Homo sapiens: one gene and its partner. The protein of the gene in region 1 interacts with the protein of each later gene in a pairwise test. Each region holds a gene or a part of one and is shown in the gene's direction. Other genes may lie near its edges.

Evidence for each region.
Region 2: the proteins of PABPC5 (region 1) and PAIP2 interact in binary tests that used the Homo sapiens proteins (3 or more experiments, as listed by UniProt).

Annotation. Positions count from the first base shown.
Region 1 is NC_000023.11:91,429,855-91,438,331, forward strand, and holds the start of PABPC5 (polyadenylate-binding protein 5), read left to right. Parts: upstream 1-4,984; 5' UTR 4,985-5,040; intron 5,041-5,048; exon of another isoform or gene 5,049-5,145; intron 5,146-5,580; 5' UTR 5,581-5,723; coding exon 5,724-6,872; 3' UTR 6,873-8,477. UniProt on the Homo sapiens protein: Binds the poly(A) tail of mRNA. May be involved in cytoplasmic regulatory processes of mRNA metabolism. Can probably bind to cytoplasmic RNA sequences other than poly(A) in vivo.
Region 2 is NC_000005.10:139,357,914-139,366,509, forward strand, and holds part of PAIP2 (polyadenylate-binding protein-interacting protein 2), read left to right. Parts: intron 1-5,845; 5' UTR 5,846-5,871; coding exon 5,872-6,009; intron 6,010-6,650; coding exon 6,651-6,830; intron 6,831-8,596. UniProt on the Homo sapiens protein: Acts as a repressor in the regulation of translation initiation of poly(A)-containing mRNAs. Its inhibitory activity on translation is mediated via its action on PABPC1.

The DNA of each region.
Region 1 (8,477 bases):
CTCCTGGGCTCAAGCAATTCTTCTGCCTCGGCCTCCCAAAGTGCTGGGATTACAGGAGTGAGCCACCATGCCTTATGTTTTCTCAAAGGTTATATAACAGTACTCAACTATAAAATCACCTGTTCCTGTTCGTTTTATTAGTAGCATATGTGTAATCATTCTGTCATTTTTTTCTAAGGCTATTGTTCTTTTTTCCTTTCAATGAAATTTGGTAATTTCTATTTTGCTAGAAATTCCAAGTTCCTCCAATTTTTCATGTTTTTGGCAAAATAGATAAATTGCTACAGCATATTTGAAACAAGTCTGACAGTATATAATAACATTTCATAATATACATACCACTTAATTTTGCAATCCCCACTTCTGAGAATCTAGTTAATAGAATCAATAATATATAAAATTACGCAATGTGGATGTTTATTATAGCATTGTTTGTTATAATACTAAAATAACTAAAAGCAGCTTTAATGTCCAACAATAGAGAAACGGTTTAATATATTTTAAATGTCATCTAAAAGCACAGGTTAATAGGTATAGAGTTTCAGTTTAACAAGATAAAAAGAGTTCTGGAGATAGATAATGGTGATGGTTACACAACAATATGAATGTTCCTAATACCGCTTAAACACTTAAAAATCATCAAGATGGTAAATTTTGTTACATGTATTTTACAACAATTTTAAAATTTAAAATAAAGCATAATGTTCACATCTTTTAAAATTATTATTCTTTTATTTATTCTTCTAGGTCAAGTGAAAGGACTACAAATCAAGATTTCTAATCAGAGAATGTGCTAAATATATATTTTCCCTATATGAGACGTGTTCAGTTAACAAGCACTAGCAAAGAAACAGAAATTTGTCTGAGACTATCTGCTAAGCAGGCAACGATCGCCTACCTTGTTTCAATGTATCATAACAGAAAATAGCTTAATTATATATAAATCTCTAAATACACTGGATTCTGAATACATAGTAACTGCTTAAATTCACATGTACTATTCTAAGTATTTATTTTAAACTAATAATATCTAATTAAAAGGGCACTCTAAGATGTGTTAATCAATCTGATTTTAGTCATCATTATACAATGCATACATATAGCAAATCATCACATTGTACATCTTGAATATATACGATCTTTGTCCATTAAATATTTTAAAATAAAAAATCACCCTGAGGAGATGCCAAACTAACTCAAAATATATTTAAAGTTGTTATATTATTTTTATTATATGTTTTTTAATACTCATATTTCTTCACAGTTGAATGATTTTTTTAAAAAATTGTACTAAGAACACTTAACATGCGATCAACCCTTCTAACAAACTTTTTAAGAGCACAATACAGTATTTTTAAATATAGGCACAATGTTGTACAGCAGCTCTCTAGAACTTGTTCATCTTGTGTAACCAAAACTTTATGTCCACTGAATTCCCCAGTTCCCCTCCAGCAGTCGCTCCCAACCACCACTCTACTCTCTGTTTCCATGAGTCTAACTATTCTAAATATGTCATTGACATGGAATCATGCACTATTTGCCCTTCCGTGATTGGCTTATTTCACTTCACATAATGTTCTTGAGCTCCATCCCATCCCTGTTGCCACATGCTGCAGGATTTCTTTTTTTTTAGGCTGAATAATATTCCATTGTATGTTTATACCACATTTTCTTTATGCATTCAACCATCAATGGACATTTATGTCATTTCCAAGACTTAGCTATGGTAAATAATGCTGTAATTAACACGGGAGTGCAAATATCTCTGAGATTCTGATTTCAATTACTTTGGATATATACCTAAATATATGTGACTACTATCCAGTAGAACTTGGATACATATTAACTCAATTAGTTGTGTGTGGGGAGGGGTAGAGAGCATGAATGTTGGCAGATTGCAGGAGTAAGGTTACATGTTACCTTGTAAGGATTTAGCAATCCTAGTAGGATTGCTGCTTCATATGGAATTTCTACTTTTAAGTTTTTGAAGAACCTCCATACTGTTTACCATAGCAGTTGTACCACTTTACATTCCCACCAAAGGTAATGGATTCCAATTCTTCCACATACTGGCCAACATTTGTTATGTTTTGATTTTTTATAATAGCCATCTCTACAGATGTGAGACGACATCTCATTAAGGGTTTGATTTGCATTCCAATGATGATTATGATGTTGAGCATCTTTTCATTTACCCATTAGCCATTTATATTCCTTCTTTTGAGAGATGACTATTCAAGTTGTTTCTTTGTTTGTTTTTGCCATTAAGTTGTAAAAGTTCCTTTTATTTGGGGACGATAGCCCCTTATCAAATACTTGTTTTACAAAAATTTTCTCCCATTCTGTAAGCTACCTTTACACTGTTGATTGTTTATTTTGCTGTGCAGAAGCCTTTTAATTTGATGTACTCTTTTTCTATATTCTTTTTTTTTTTTTTTTGCTTGTGTTTTGGTGTCATATACAAGAAGTCATTGGTAAGACTAATGTCAAGAAGCTCTTACCCTGTTTTCTTCTAAAATTTTATAGTTTCGGATCAGGTTGAAAGTCTGTATTTTGAGTTGATTTTTGTGTACAGTGTAAGATAAGGATCCAATTTTACGTATATCCAAGTTTTTAACACTATTTGTGAAAGAGACAATCCTTTCTTTATTGTGTTTTCTTGGCACCTTTGTCAAAGACCACTTAACTGTACATGTGTGGGTTTATTTCTGGGCTCTTTATTCTGCCTCATTGGCCTATATGTCTGTTTTTTATGACAGTGCTACAGTGTTGTAATTACTGTAGCTTTGTAACATGTTTTGAAATCAGGAAGAATGGTGTCTCCAGCTTTTTTCTTCGTTCTCAGATTGCTTTGGTTATTCAGGGTTTTTTTGTGACTACAAATGAATTTTAGGTTGTTTTTTCTATTTCTGTAAAAAAAAAATGCCATTGGGCTTTTGATAGGGATTATATTGATCAGTTTGGATAGTATGGAGATTTAAAAAATATTAGACTTTAGGGTTTTCTACAGATAAGATTATGCCATCTGCAAACAAAGATTAATTTACTTTTTTCTTTCTGATTTTGATGCTTTTATTTCCTTCTCTGGCCTAATTGCTCTGCCTAAGGTTTCCAGTACTATGTTGAATGGAAGTGGTAAGTGTAGAGAAGTGATTATTTTGAAAACGTGTATTATAACAAATCAATTCTAACTATAATCTTAGAGAAAATATGTACAAATAAATTTGAATATGGACAACATTTAGTTGGTTACAGGAACAGATGAAAATATTGATTTGAATCAATGATGAGATTGTGGAAATTGGATTTATGTTGTTATTTTACTATTTTCAATAAGGCAGTTTTAAAAATGAGAAAAGTCCAAAACAGACTAGAATTCTAACCCATTGTTAATTACGCATAAAAGAAAATATGTTTATAAAAATATATTCAAAATGCAATAAACTAGGCAGATGTTCACAAGTGTTTCCACATGTTGGTCACTCTGGTCACACTGTAAAACCCATTTATTAGTCTATAATATCATTGTTCATATTTGCCTTTTCTCAAAATCTCCATGTCTTAGTTAACCAAGAACACTAGAAAGCAAGCAAAAAAAAAAAATAGTAAAGAAAATTACTAAGTTTTTGAGTAAATAATGAGGTTTAATGTCAACTCTACAGTCTAATAGACACTATAAAATGTATAAAGTGAATGAATACGTTAATTTAGCCTCTTATTCTGAGGACTTATTAGGAAAACACCCACTAAGGTAATGTCCTTCTCTTGCAATCTTTTTTTCCCAGGATCTTTTCCAGCCTAAGAGTAGTGATAGATGTTTTGTTTGGATTTTTCTGGAGGGGTAGGAATTGTGGAAGGAGCCTCTTGAAGTGTTGTTTGCGCATGCTAGATATCAGTGAATTTCTGAAAACACGGTCAAAATTTCTCTCCAAAAGGGTTTCTCAAATACTCTGAAGAGAGATATTGTTGAGAAACTGCTGAGTTGAGTCCAGTCTGATGGCACTGTTTCCTTCAAGGGTTTCAAGTTGACAACTCATGATGAAATTCATAATTGTGTAAAGTGCATATATCTTAACATGTTTATTTCATCTGTAAATATTAATTACATATTTTGTATTGATTCTGTGGCTTTTATCTCTTTAACTGAGATTTTGTAACTGTAATTCTCGCGGCAGCTCAACAGTTTCAACGTTTTGTGGCACTAAACACCATCAAAAGCCATTATATGGCTCTCCAATCATTAAAACCTTAGTATTATGGGATCAGAGAAAAGATCTCTTTGCCTACCACCTGAGGAAAATATTACCATTATGTTGGAGATTAATGAAGTAAGGCTAAAGGCCAAAGGCAACATGGTCCTGTGTTCTACTTGACCCTGTGATCCTTTAGCACTGGATTGGGAGGCCAGGACATTTGTAAACTTTGACTTTCCAATGCACTCAGGAAAGTATGCAACCTATCCTTTTCCCTAAGCTTAAATGATTTTGATAATTAGTTTTTTAAAACTTATTATTTTTGCCCAGGTCGTCATCTTCTTATGTGATTTTTAGATGTTCGGCTTAAATATAGTGTTTTAAATAATAAATAACATTTAAAATATAAGAAACATCTAAAAGCCATCTTAGATTTTTCTTTCTCTCCTTCTCTCTCTCTCTCTCATTCTCTCCCCTTCTCTCTCTCTCTCTCTCTCTCTCTCTCTCTCCCCCCTTCTCTCTCTCTCTTTTTTTTTAAATCTTGGTACAGAGGAAGCGGGAAGTTACTTAGCACGGTTCCGGGTTTCTCGCGCCCCGCCTGTCCCCCCTCCCTATCACTGCTACTGGCTCTTGGTCCCTCCGTTGGACTGTCCTGCGGAGAGAAACCCCAGCCCATCGGTCTGCGCTGGGACCGCCCGCCGCGCATCTGCCCTTCTTCGCTGACTCCGCCCCGCATCTGGCCAGACCCGCCTCGCGTCAGAGCTGACCCACTCACTGCGCGTTTGCCAGTCAGTCTCTCCGGACCTGCCTCGAGCCTCAGGCTGCTGAAATCACCGCGCCTCACTCGGTCCGTACCCAGTGGGCATCTTGGGTATCTGGGCGGTCTTCGATCCCCCGCGCGTGTGTCTGTCTGTCTGTCTCTGTGTCCTATCCGCTGCCTGCAGCCTGCCTGCCGGTCTTATCGCACCAAGTGTCTGGTGTACCCTTTCGCAGACGCTGAGTGCGGAGAGGCCTTAGCGAAAGGCTAGCCAGCCCGAGACTGGCCAGGCAGCCGGCGGAGGAATACGCGCTCGGTCCCTGCCCTTGTTGATATCATTTTAAACCAACAGGAGCTCTAGGCCTATATTTATGCAGAAAGCGGGTCGGGAGGCCTCTGTCTGCAATGCTAGTTGTGGGGAACCAGCCAGCTGCTTGGTGGCTTCTCACAATTTCACGGGGACAGGAAAATTACGTTTCTGGTACTGGCTTTTGAAACTGATTTTAAATCTGAACGGGTGACAATTTTAAGTCCCCGCAGGGAGAATAGATTCGTATTTGGGGCGCCTTTTTGTCTGATGTGTTTGTTCTGAGCCTGCTGACCAGCTGTTTCTGAACTTCATTTTCTCAGCCTCGACAGTGATTCTGAGTCTGCTTTTAGCTTCCTTTTGCCTGCCTTGGCTTTTTCTGTTCGTGAACAGCTGTTTGGCCCATAGCTTAGAGAAAGCAGCCTTTTTTCTCTTCAAAGAGAACCTCCTCCCAGTGCTCAGAGAGATGGGGAGCGGGGAGCCTAATCCTGCTGGCAAGAAAAAGAAGTATCTCAAGGCCGCTCTGTACGTGGGTGACTTGGACCCAGATGTCACCGAGGACATGCTCTATAAGAAGTTCAGGCCTGCTGGCCCTCTGCGATTCACCCGAATCTGCCGTGATCCGGTGACCCGCAGCCCCCTGGGCTATGGGTATGTTAACTTCCGCTTTCCCGCGGATGCAGAGTGGGCCTTGAACACCATGAATTTTGATTTGATTAATGGAAAACCATTCCGCCTTATGTGGTCTCAGCCAGATGACCGCTTAAGAAAGTCTGGAGTGGGAAATATATTCATCAAAAACCTGGACAAATCCATAGACAATAGGGCCCTGTTTTACTTATTTTCTGCTTTTGGGAACATTCTGTCCTGCAAAGTCGTATGCGATGACAACGGCTCTAAGGGTTATGCCTATGTTCACTTTGACAGCCTGGCCGCTGCCAATAGAGCCATCTGGCACATGAATGGAGTGCGGCTCAACAACCGCCAGGTGTATGTTGGCAGATTCAAATTCCCAGAAGAGCGGGCGGCTGAGGTCAGAACCAGGGATAGAGCAACTTTCACCAATGTTTTCGTTAAAAACATTGGAGACGACATAGATGACGAAAAACTGAAGGAACTTTTCTGTGAATATGGGCCAACTGAGAGTGTTAAAGTAATAAGAGATGCCAGTGGGAAATCTAAAGGCTTTGGATTTGTGAGATATGAGACACACGAGGCTGCCCAAAAGGCTGTGCTAGACTTGCATGGAAAGTCCATCGATGGAAAAGTCCTCTATGTAGGGCGAGCACAGAAGAAAATTGAACGCCTGGCTGAGTTGAGGCGGAGATTTGAACGGCTGAGGTTAAAAGAAAAAAGTCGGCCCCCAGGGGTGCCTATCTATATTAAGAACTTGGATGAGACAATCAATGATGAAAAACTGAAGGAGGAATTTTCTTCCTTTGGGTCAATTAGTCGGGCCAAAGTGATGATGGAAGTGGGGCAAGGCAAAGGATTTGGTGTGGTCTGCTTTTCCTCTTTTGAAGAGGCTACCAAAGCAGTGGATGAGATGAATGGCCGCATAGTGGGCTCCAAGCCCCTGCATGTCACCCTGGGCCAGGCCAGGCGCAGGTGCTGAGAATAAGAATGCTCAGTTTGTTTCAGCCTTAGTTGGTGCCTCCTTAGTTTGGGCTCCTTTGTGATAAGGGGTTATTTTATGCTAATTCACAAGTTTTTTTTTGAAGTGAATTCTTTTGAAAAAAAAATGCAAAACTAGAAAACTTTATTCATTTTAGAATAGAACATAATTTCTAACTGTAAAATTGTCATTTTGTACTTTTTTTGATGTAATATCCTTAGAAATCTGTAGAATAAAGTGTATTCCTCCACTTTTTTTTCCTGAACAGTCAAGGTGAGGCAATTGATTGAGTATATTTCCCTTCTTATTTCAGTAATACTCTATTTTTTTTCATGAAAATGTCAACATGGTTCTTCTGAATCTATCACAGTGAAAAGTTCTAACTTGTTTTTGAGAAGTCAGTACAGCAGGGGAAAACATATGTGATGCAATTAACATCTGCATAATTTCACTTAAAATTATTATGCAAAAATGAATGTTTTTTCAAAAAATGTGAAATGTATTTTATTTTCTTTATTTGTATTCTTGTTTCATTTTTTAATATGTTGTGAACATGCTACAGATTTGATAGTACTTTTGACTAAATGTTGGGAGTGGTCGTATTAACTTCTTGCCCAAAGAAGTAAGCATATTGGTGTTTTCTCAATTAGTCACTGAGAAAATTAACACTTTAGGCAGTGGCTATTTAAAGTAGGAATTGCATCTTAAAAACCTTTCCTAAGAGATTTGGTATGTGAGGATACTTTCAGTACCACTCCTACCATTCATTTTTCTAAATTCCTTAGTACATATACTTGGATCATGTTAAATTAACAAGAAAGATGAATAACTGCGCTGAATTGCCTTTACCTATAAATAATTTAATATTTTACCTTCGGGTTTTATCAACTGTCAATATAAAAGGCAGTACTCCACAGAATGATGTTGAAAAACTTCTTCGAAGAACACCTTCTATTAAACTTGTTATCTCTTGTAAATTATTGTGTGTGTCCTTTTGATAATATTCACAGGTGTTTCAAAGGTAAGGAATAGGTTGTCTCTTGGATTAAGTCATATGCCTCCAGCCATTATATGAGAACTGTGAAACCAATATGGTTTTCTTTATGTCTTGGCTGCTTGAAAATTAAAAAAAAAAAAGGTTTGTTCAATATTGCCGTTACATTTATTAGCCTGTAATTTCTAAATTGGAGATTCTCTACATTTCACTTGCAGTTTCCTGTTCTCCTCATTGCCTGCCTTCCATTCATATTACACTTATTTTTCTATTTTTTGTATTACCTTTTTAAAAATATATACCAGTTCAAGTCCTTTTAGGAAGAAGAAAATACCTAATTTATGTAAAATTTAAATAATTACTTTTTTATAATATGATTCACTTATGCCACAGATTCAACATTAGAATATGTTTTATCTCTACTGTCAGTTTTATTACCTTATATACAAATCTTCATTTTCATACATAGTACAATGTAAATATATAACTTTGTTAACACTTTTGTTAGCTCTTTGACCATAAAATAATGACAATAAGCTGTTTCTATGTATTTGTTTATCTACAAATTACAGGTTTATCCATTTGCAAATATTTTCAAAATGGAAATCACT
Region 2 (8,596 bases), on another chromosome or scaffold:
CAAATGGGAGATGGCACTAGGGTAGTTTAAAATACCACAGAGGTGTTTTACCAGAATTGAACTGTTGGTTTTTTTTTTCTTAAGCATTCCTCTGGAAGTTTATCATTGCATTGGCAGTTCTTTTTAGTAGTTCTGTAGAGATAGGGGTCTCACTATGTTGCCCATGCTGGTTTTCAACAGCTGGGTCTGGAGGCCCACCTCAGACTCCCAAAGTGCTGGGCCCTGGTGCATGTTTTAGAGTCAGGCTACCTTGACTTGAATTTCAGCTCCACTGTTCACTAGTTGTGTAACCTGGAACAAGTTACTTAAGACTTAGTTCTTTGTCATGGAAATGAATTTGACCATAATCCCTACATCCACAGGACTTGTGAGTATTAAATAGATGATGACTGTAAGGCCCTTAAATGCAATACTATTGTTGCATATGTGTTTACTTTTTAAGAAAAATATATACCACATTAGCAGTGCTTACTTTTGGGAAAAGGATTGGGAGTGAGGATTGTGTCTGGTGGTGGGGAGGGAGTCAGCTACCTTTTTTACTCATTTTTTCTATCACAGTTGAAAATGTATAGCTAAAAGACTGACTAGCATTGAACACATTGGGTATATATTCAAGAGAACTGAAAACGTGCTCATATAAAAACTTGTACACAAATACCGATAACAGCATTATTAATAGCCAAAAAGTGGAAACGACTGCAGATGCTCATTAATCAGAGTAGATAAAATGTGTATCTCTATACAATGGAATATTGTTTGGCAATAAAAAGGAATGAAATGCTGATACATGCTACAACATAGGTGAACCTTGAAAACATTGTAATAAGTGAAAGAAGCCAGACATGAGAAGAGGACACATATTTTATGATTCCATTTATATGCAATGTTCAGAATAGGCAAATCTATAGAGACAGAAAGTAGACTAGTGGTTGTCCAAGTTGGGGGGCTTGGGAAATGGAGAGTGACTACAGATGGGTATGGAGTTTCCTTTTGGGGTGGTGAAAATGTTCTGGAATTAGGTAATGGTGGTGTGTTAAAACCACTGAATCAAACACTTTAAAACAGTAAATTCTTTTTTTGAGACGAGGTCTTGCTCTGTTGCCCAGGCTGGAATGCAGTGGCGTGCGATCATGGCTCTCTGCAGCCTTGACCTCGGGCTAATATGATCTTCCCACCTCACTCTCCTGAGTATCTGGGACCACAGGCGTGCACCACCACACCCAGCTAAGTTATTTGTTTGAGACAGAGTCTTACTCTGTCTCCCAGGCTGGAGAGTGCAGTGGCGCGATCTTGGCACACTGGAACCTCTACCTCCTGGGTTCAAGTGATTCTCCTGCCTCAGCCTCCTGTGTAGCTGGCATTACAGGTGTGCGCCATCACACCCGGCTAATTTTTTTTCATTTTCAGTAGAGACAGGGTTTCGCCATGTTGGCCAGGCTGGTCTCAAACTCCTGACCTCAAGTGATCTGCCCGCCTCAGCCTCCCAAAGTGCTCGGATTACAGGCATGAGCCACAGTGCCCGGTGTGAAAAGTAGGATTTTATGGGCATAAGTTGGGACAGGATACAAATTGGGAAAATAATGAAAACCTGTTTATATTGGGGTGTCTTTGTACCTAACTTAATGATAAGGTTCAGATGCAGATTAACCAAAGTTCCATCCAGTTGTGAGGCAGGATCAATCCCAGCCATTCACAGTGTTAGAGGAATATCTAAAATGTAATTATTTAACAGTAAGCAGTTTGGTAGCCTGCCATATAAGAATGAGTAATTTTCGGCCGGACACGGTGGCTCATGCCTGTAATCCCAGCACTTTGGGAGGCTGAGGTGGGCGGATCACTTGAGGTCAGGCGTTTGAGGCCAGCCGGGCCAACGTGGTGAAACCCTGTCTCTACTAAAAATACAAAAAAATTAGCCGGCCATGGTGGCACGCTCCTGTAATCCCAGCTACACAGGAGGCGGAGGCAGGAGAATCTCTTGAACCAGGAGGCAGAGGTTGCAGTGAGCTGAGATTGCACCACTGTACTCTCCGTCTCAAAAAAAAATGGGTAATTTTCTTCTTTTCTTTTTTTTGAGATGTAGTCGCGCTCTGTTGCCCAGGCCAGAGTGCAGTGGCGCAGTCTCGGCTCACTGCAACCTCCACCTCTCAGGTTCAAGCGATTCTTCTGCCTTGGCCTCCCAAGTAGCTGGGACTACAGGTGCGTGCCACCATACCTGGCTAGTTTTTGTATTTTTAGTAGAGACGGGATTTCACCATATTGGCCAGGCTGGTCTCGAACTCCCGATCTCGTGATCTGCCCGCCTTGGCCTCCCAAAGTGTTGGGATTATAGGCGGGAGCCACCGCACCCAGTCTAATTATTTTCTTTAGAGGAACTGGTTATTATTTAGTCAAAACTTGCTATCAAAATAGTTTTTCATCCAAGTTTAATGATAAAAATAACAGATATCCATTGTCTGTTTTCTGTCTTGTCTGCTTTTACAGTGCCTCAATTTCCTAACAAATCATATTATCATATTTTCTTTCTACTAACACCATAGCACATAACTCTGAGTCTGTTTCTGCCTTTCTTCTTTTGTTTGATTGTATTATTGTTTTTCAAGATAGGGTCTTGCTCTGCCGCCCAGGCTGGAGTGCAGTGGCACTATCTCAGCTCACTGCAACCTCCACCTCCCAGGGTCAGGAGATCCTCCTACCTTGGCCTCCCAAGTAGCTGGGACTGCAGGCGTGCACCACTGTACCCAGCTTTGCCATATTGCCCAGGCTAGTATCAAACTCCTGGGCTCAAGCGATCCACCCCTGTTGACCTCCCAAAGTGTTGGGATTACAGGCATGAGCCGCACCCAGTTTGTTTCTTCCTGCCTTTCTTTTTTTTTTTTTCTTTTTTGGAGACAGGGTCTTGCTTTCTTGCCCAGGCTGAAGTGCAGTGATGTGATCTTGCCTCTCTGCAACCTCTGCCTCCCAGGTTCCAGTGATTCTCTTGCCTCAGCCTCCCAGATAGCTGGGATTATAGGCATGCACCACCACATCCAGCTAATTTTTTGTATTTGTAGTAGAGATGGGGTTCTCTATGTTGCCCAGGCTGGTCTCGAACTCCTGGGCTCAAGCAGTCCGCCTGCTTTGTCCTCCCAAAATGCTGGAATTACTGGAGTGAGCCACAGTGCCCGGCCTGCCTTTCTTTTATAGATATACATACTATAACTAGGACAGAAGTTCCCAGAAATTTTTAGTTGAGGACCTCTCAACAATTAAAATTTTCACCACTATGATCCTGTTGTCATTAGTATCTAGTATTTGTCATATTACATGAACAGCTATGGATTTTTATTACACTTATGTCCTCTTAAGGATAAGTCCATAAAATTTAAAGGGCCAGGCAACACACATAGGGTTCATCTTTTCCCTGAAACTTATCCCAAAGGGAAAAAAATACATATATTTCCAGTAGGAGATTTTAGATTTAGTGTTTTACTTGATTATGACAAATGTGAGGTAAGCAGACCTCAATAAGCCTTTCTTTGGCACAAGTCACTATACTGCTTGAGTTTACGTACAGGTGAATTGTTTTATGTAAATCTATTTTTAGTGATTTCAAACTTAATGAATTGGAATATTTTAGAATGTGAAACCTTGTGCTTCAGATATTTAGCCTGCAATGTATCAATTAGGTTAGATCATGTTATCAGCTATTGAGTAGTATAAGACATCAGGCTTGTATTTGATACTACTTTTACTCAGGTGAAAAGATACTGGGCTGGGCGCGATGGCTCATGCATGTAATCCCAGCACTTTGGGAGGCTGAGACAGGTGGATCATTTGAGGTCTTGAGTTCAAGGCTAGCCTGGCCAACATGGTGAAACCCAGTCTCTACTAAAAATACAAAAGTTAGCCAGGTGATAATGGCATACGCCTGTAATCCCAGCTACTCTGGAGGCTGAGGCAGGAGAATTGCTTGAGCCTGGGAGGCGGAGGTTGCGGTGAGCTGAGATCACGCCACTGCACTCGTCTGGGTGAGACCCTGTCTCAAAAAAAAAAAAAAAAAAAAGATGCCTGAAACTCACTGTACAGTGAGGAACTCCAGACATGGAAGAACTTGACATGGACCTAGAGAAAAAGCAGACACAGAATATGGGCTATCAAGGAGAGATCCAGAGCTATATACATGAAGAACCTAAGAAGTTATTAAAAATCTGTTAGTTTTCACTTTCAATCCCTGGACTTTTTGAAGTCAGTTTTTAAAAATTGAATTTGCTTTTCATCATTTCATCACTTGATGACTCAGTCTTTCAGACCGTGTTTGGTTTTTGTTGTTGTTGTTGTTGTTGTTTGAGGTGGAGTTTCCCTCTGTTGCCTAGGCTGGAGTGCAGTGGTGCAGTCTCGGCTCACTGTACCCTCTGCCTCCTGGTTTCAAGTGATTCTCCCACCTCAGCCTCCTGAGTAGCTGGGATTACAGGCATGTACCACCATGCCCAGCTAAATTTTTTGTTTTTGGGTGTTTTTTTTTTTTTTTTTTTTTTGAGATGGAGTTTCACTCTTTTTGCCCAGGCTGGAGTGCAACGGCGCAATCTTGGCTCACCACAGCCTCCGCCTCCCGGGTTCAAGCAATTCTCCTGCCTCAGCCTCCGGAGTAGCTGGGATTACAGGCATGTGCCACCACGCCCGGCTAATTTTGTATTTTTAGTAGAGACGGGGTTTCACCATGTTGATCAGGCTGGTCTTGAACTCTCGACCTCAGGTGATCCACCTGCCTCGGCCTCCCAAAGTGCTGGGATTACAGGCATGAGCCACCGCGCCTGGCCTTTTTTGTATTTTTAGTAGAGACAGGGTTTCACCATGTTAGGCTGGTCTCAAACTCCTGACCTTAAATGATCCACCTGCCCCCGCCTCCCAAAGTGCCGGGATTATAGGCATGAGCCACTGCACCCAGCCGACCATGCTTGCTTTACAAAGCAAGTGATATGTAATATAAAATATAAATTGGATGGTTTGGAGAGTCCATGTAAGCAACTGATGGACTTCATTTACTGTTATCGGAAAACATTAGATGTGGCCGGGCGTGGTGGCGCACACCTATAATCTCAGCACTTTGGGAGGCCAAGGCAGGCAGATCATCTGAGGTCAGGAGTTCAAGACCAGCCTGGCCAACGTGGCGAAACTCCATCTCTACTAAAAATACAAAAATTAGCTGGGCATGGTAGCACGTGCCTGTAATCCCAGCTACTTGGGAGGCTGAGGCGGGAGAATCGCTTAAACATGGGCAGTTGAGGTTGCAGTGAACCAAGATCATGCCACTGCATTCCAGCCTGGGTGACAGAGTGAAACTCTATCTCAAAAAAAAAAAGAAAACATTAGATGTTTTAGGCTGTCCTCTCCTGTTTCTTAAAACATTAAAATCATTTGGAAAAAACAAACATGAAGCTTTCCAATTATTCAACTTACCGTGTATTTTTAATGTATCATCTGCCTCTAACACCTATTCATGATGCCTGCTAATAATAAACAGATGCTCACTAAGAACTGAAAGAATCAGCTGGGCCTGGTGGCTCATGCATATAATCCCAGCACTTTGAGAGGCTTGGGTGGGAGGATCACTTGAGCCCAGAAATTTGAGACCAGCTTGGGTAACACAGACCTTGTTTCTACAAAAAATAAAAAAAATTCAGCCGGGTGGTGTGGTGGTGCACACCTGTAGTCCCAGTTACTTGGGAGGCTGAGGCAAGAGATCGAGGCTGTGGTGAGCCATGATCACACCATTGCACTCCAGCCTGGATGACGGAGTGAAACCTTGTCTCAGAAAGAAAAAACCCTGAATGAGTAAGTAAATTAACTGTGCTGTTGTTCTTTTAAGGTTAAAAACGACAACCAACATCAGCCATGAAAGATCCAAGTCGCAGCAGTACTAGCCCAAGCATCATCAATGAAGATGTGATTATTAACGGTCATTCTCATGAAGATGACAATCCATTTGCAGAGTACATGTGGATGGAAAATGAAGAAGAATTCAACAGACAAGTTAGTTTTTTGTACAAACATGTTTTTATAGTCCATTCTGGCCCTCAATATGATTGTACTTGTCCCTGAAATGTGTTTATCTTGTCCTTTATGTATAAAGTATGTAGACTGATGTGCCACCACTCCTGTTTATTTGGCTGCTGATTACTACCAGGCTTAACTGCTTACGGAAATAACCTGGGGAGCTTGTTTCAGGGTCCCACCCTAGAGATGTCTGAATCAGGAGGATGAGGGTGGAGCCTGGGAAACTTTTTCAGAGCTCTCAGATGGTTCCATTGAGCAGTCAGATGTGGAAACCACTGCCTTATGCCAGTAAGATTGCTGGTTACCGTGAAAGTCAAGAGAATTCAGGAGTCAGGAGCAGACAGGCACAGAAAAAAGAGACAGGCATCTCTTTTTACTTCTTCCCTGCCACCCTCAATGGAAAAAAGAATGTTCTACTAATAAAAGTAAAAACATAGAAAAACCCTAAACAGATAGATCTTCGCCGGTCATTATGGTAAGCATTTTTTTTCCTTAGCATGGAAGCAGAAAAGAAAGTATGACTTTGTGCCTTTAAATGGTTTAGTTCAAGATATTTTAAGCCATTCCTAGTGATATCTACCAAGTGTGCTATAAATTATCCTTTATTATAAATCTAGATAGAAGAGGAGTTATGGGAAGAAGAATTTATTGAACGCTGTTTCCAAGAAATGCTGGAAGAGGAAGAAGAGCATGAATGGTTTATTCCAGCTCGAGATCTCCCACAAACTATGGACCAAATCCAAGACCAGTTTAATGACCTTGTTATCAGTGATGGCTCTTCTCTGGAAGATCTTGTGGTAAAAAGTTATTTTTCATCTTTTTAAAACCTAGTGCATCTTTTGCATAAGTGGAAAAGCCAGCTCCCATCTATTTAAGAATTCTACATCTCTTTCCCCTTCAGAAATTGTGCTGCTTCTGGCCGGGCATGTGGCTCACGCCTGTAATCCCAGCACTTTGGGAGGCCGAGGCAGGCAGTTGACTTGAGGTCAGGAGTTTGAGACCAGCCTGACCAACATGGAGAAACCCCATCTCTACTAAAAATAAAAAATTAGCCGGGCATGGTAGCACATGCCTGTGATCCCAGCTACTCGGGAGGCTGAGGCAGGAGAATCGCTTGAACCCGGGAGACGGAAGTTGTGGTGAGCTGAGATTGCACCATTGCACTCCAGCCTGGGCAACAAGAGTGAAACTCTATTAAATAAATAAATAAATAAATAAATAAATAAATAAATAAATAGAATAAAAAATACAAAATTTGGCCAGGCACGGTGGCTCATGCCTTTAATTCCAGCACTTTGGGAGGCCGAGGTGGGTGGATCACCTGAGGTCAGGAGTTCAAGACCAGCCTGGCCAACGTGGTGAAACCCCATCTGTACTAAAATTACAAAAATTAGCTGGGTGTGGTGGTGCATGCCTGTAAGTAATCCCAGCTACTCAAAAGGCTGAGGCAGGAGAATTGCTTGAATCTGGGAGGCGGAGGTTGCAGTGAGTGGAGATCGCACCATTGCACTCCAGCCTGGGCAACAGAGTGAGACTCTGACTCAAAAAAAAGAAAAAAAAAATACAAAAATTAGCTGGACATGGTGGCGGGCGCCTGTAGTTCCAGCTACTTGGGAGGCTGAGGCAGGAGAATCGCTTCAACCTGGAAGGCAGAGGTTGCAGTGATCCGAGATTACGCCACTGCACTCCAGCGTGGGTGACACAGCAAGACTGTCTCAAAAAAAAAAAAAGGAAAAAGGAATTGTGCTGCTTTTTACAATGGAAGCAGAGTCTCACGACATGGAATCACTTCCGGCAACACTGTAGAGCTAGTCTTAGACGGACTTCTAGCCCCTGCTTTTAGTCCTGATGTTGCCCTAGGGTACTTAAATGTCCTAAAGAATTAATAATTTAAAAACACACACAATATTATCATGTTACTTGCCTATACAGAAGTAGCTTGATGGAGAAGTTTTGCTCTTTAATCTTGTCTTGGCTGGGTGCAGTGGCTCATGCCTGTAATCCCAACACTTTGGGACGCCGAGGCACGCGGATCACGAGGTCAAGAGTTCGAGACCAGCCTGACCAACATGGTGAAACCCCGTCTCTACTAAAAGTATACAGAAAATTAGCTGGTTGTGGTGGTGCGTGCCTGTAATCCCAGCTACCTGGGAGGCTAAGGCAGGAGAATCGCATGAATCTGGGAGGTGGAGGTTGTGGTGAACCAAGATGGTGTCGTTGCACTCTAGCCTGGGCGACAGAGTGAGACTCCACCTCAAAAAAAAAAAAAAAAAAAAAAGCGGGGTGGGGGGAATTGTGATAACTAAACATCAGCACTAGAGTGAGAACTGGCTGGGTCCACTGAACTAATCTGTACACCATGATTACCTATGAAGCATTAAATACAAAAATCAGTTCTTTAGTTACATCCCAACATGCTCAGTTGTCTGGGCATGTTAATTTTTTAAAAGTACTACAGAGGATTTATTATACAGCCAACTTGCCTGAGTCGGTCATTTGGAAACCATTCTTCTAAAGGATGGTGTAGAGAGCACTGAAGTTTACATTGTGGTATATAGCCTTT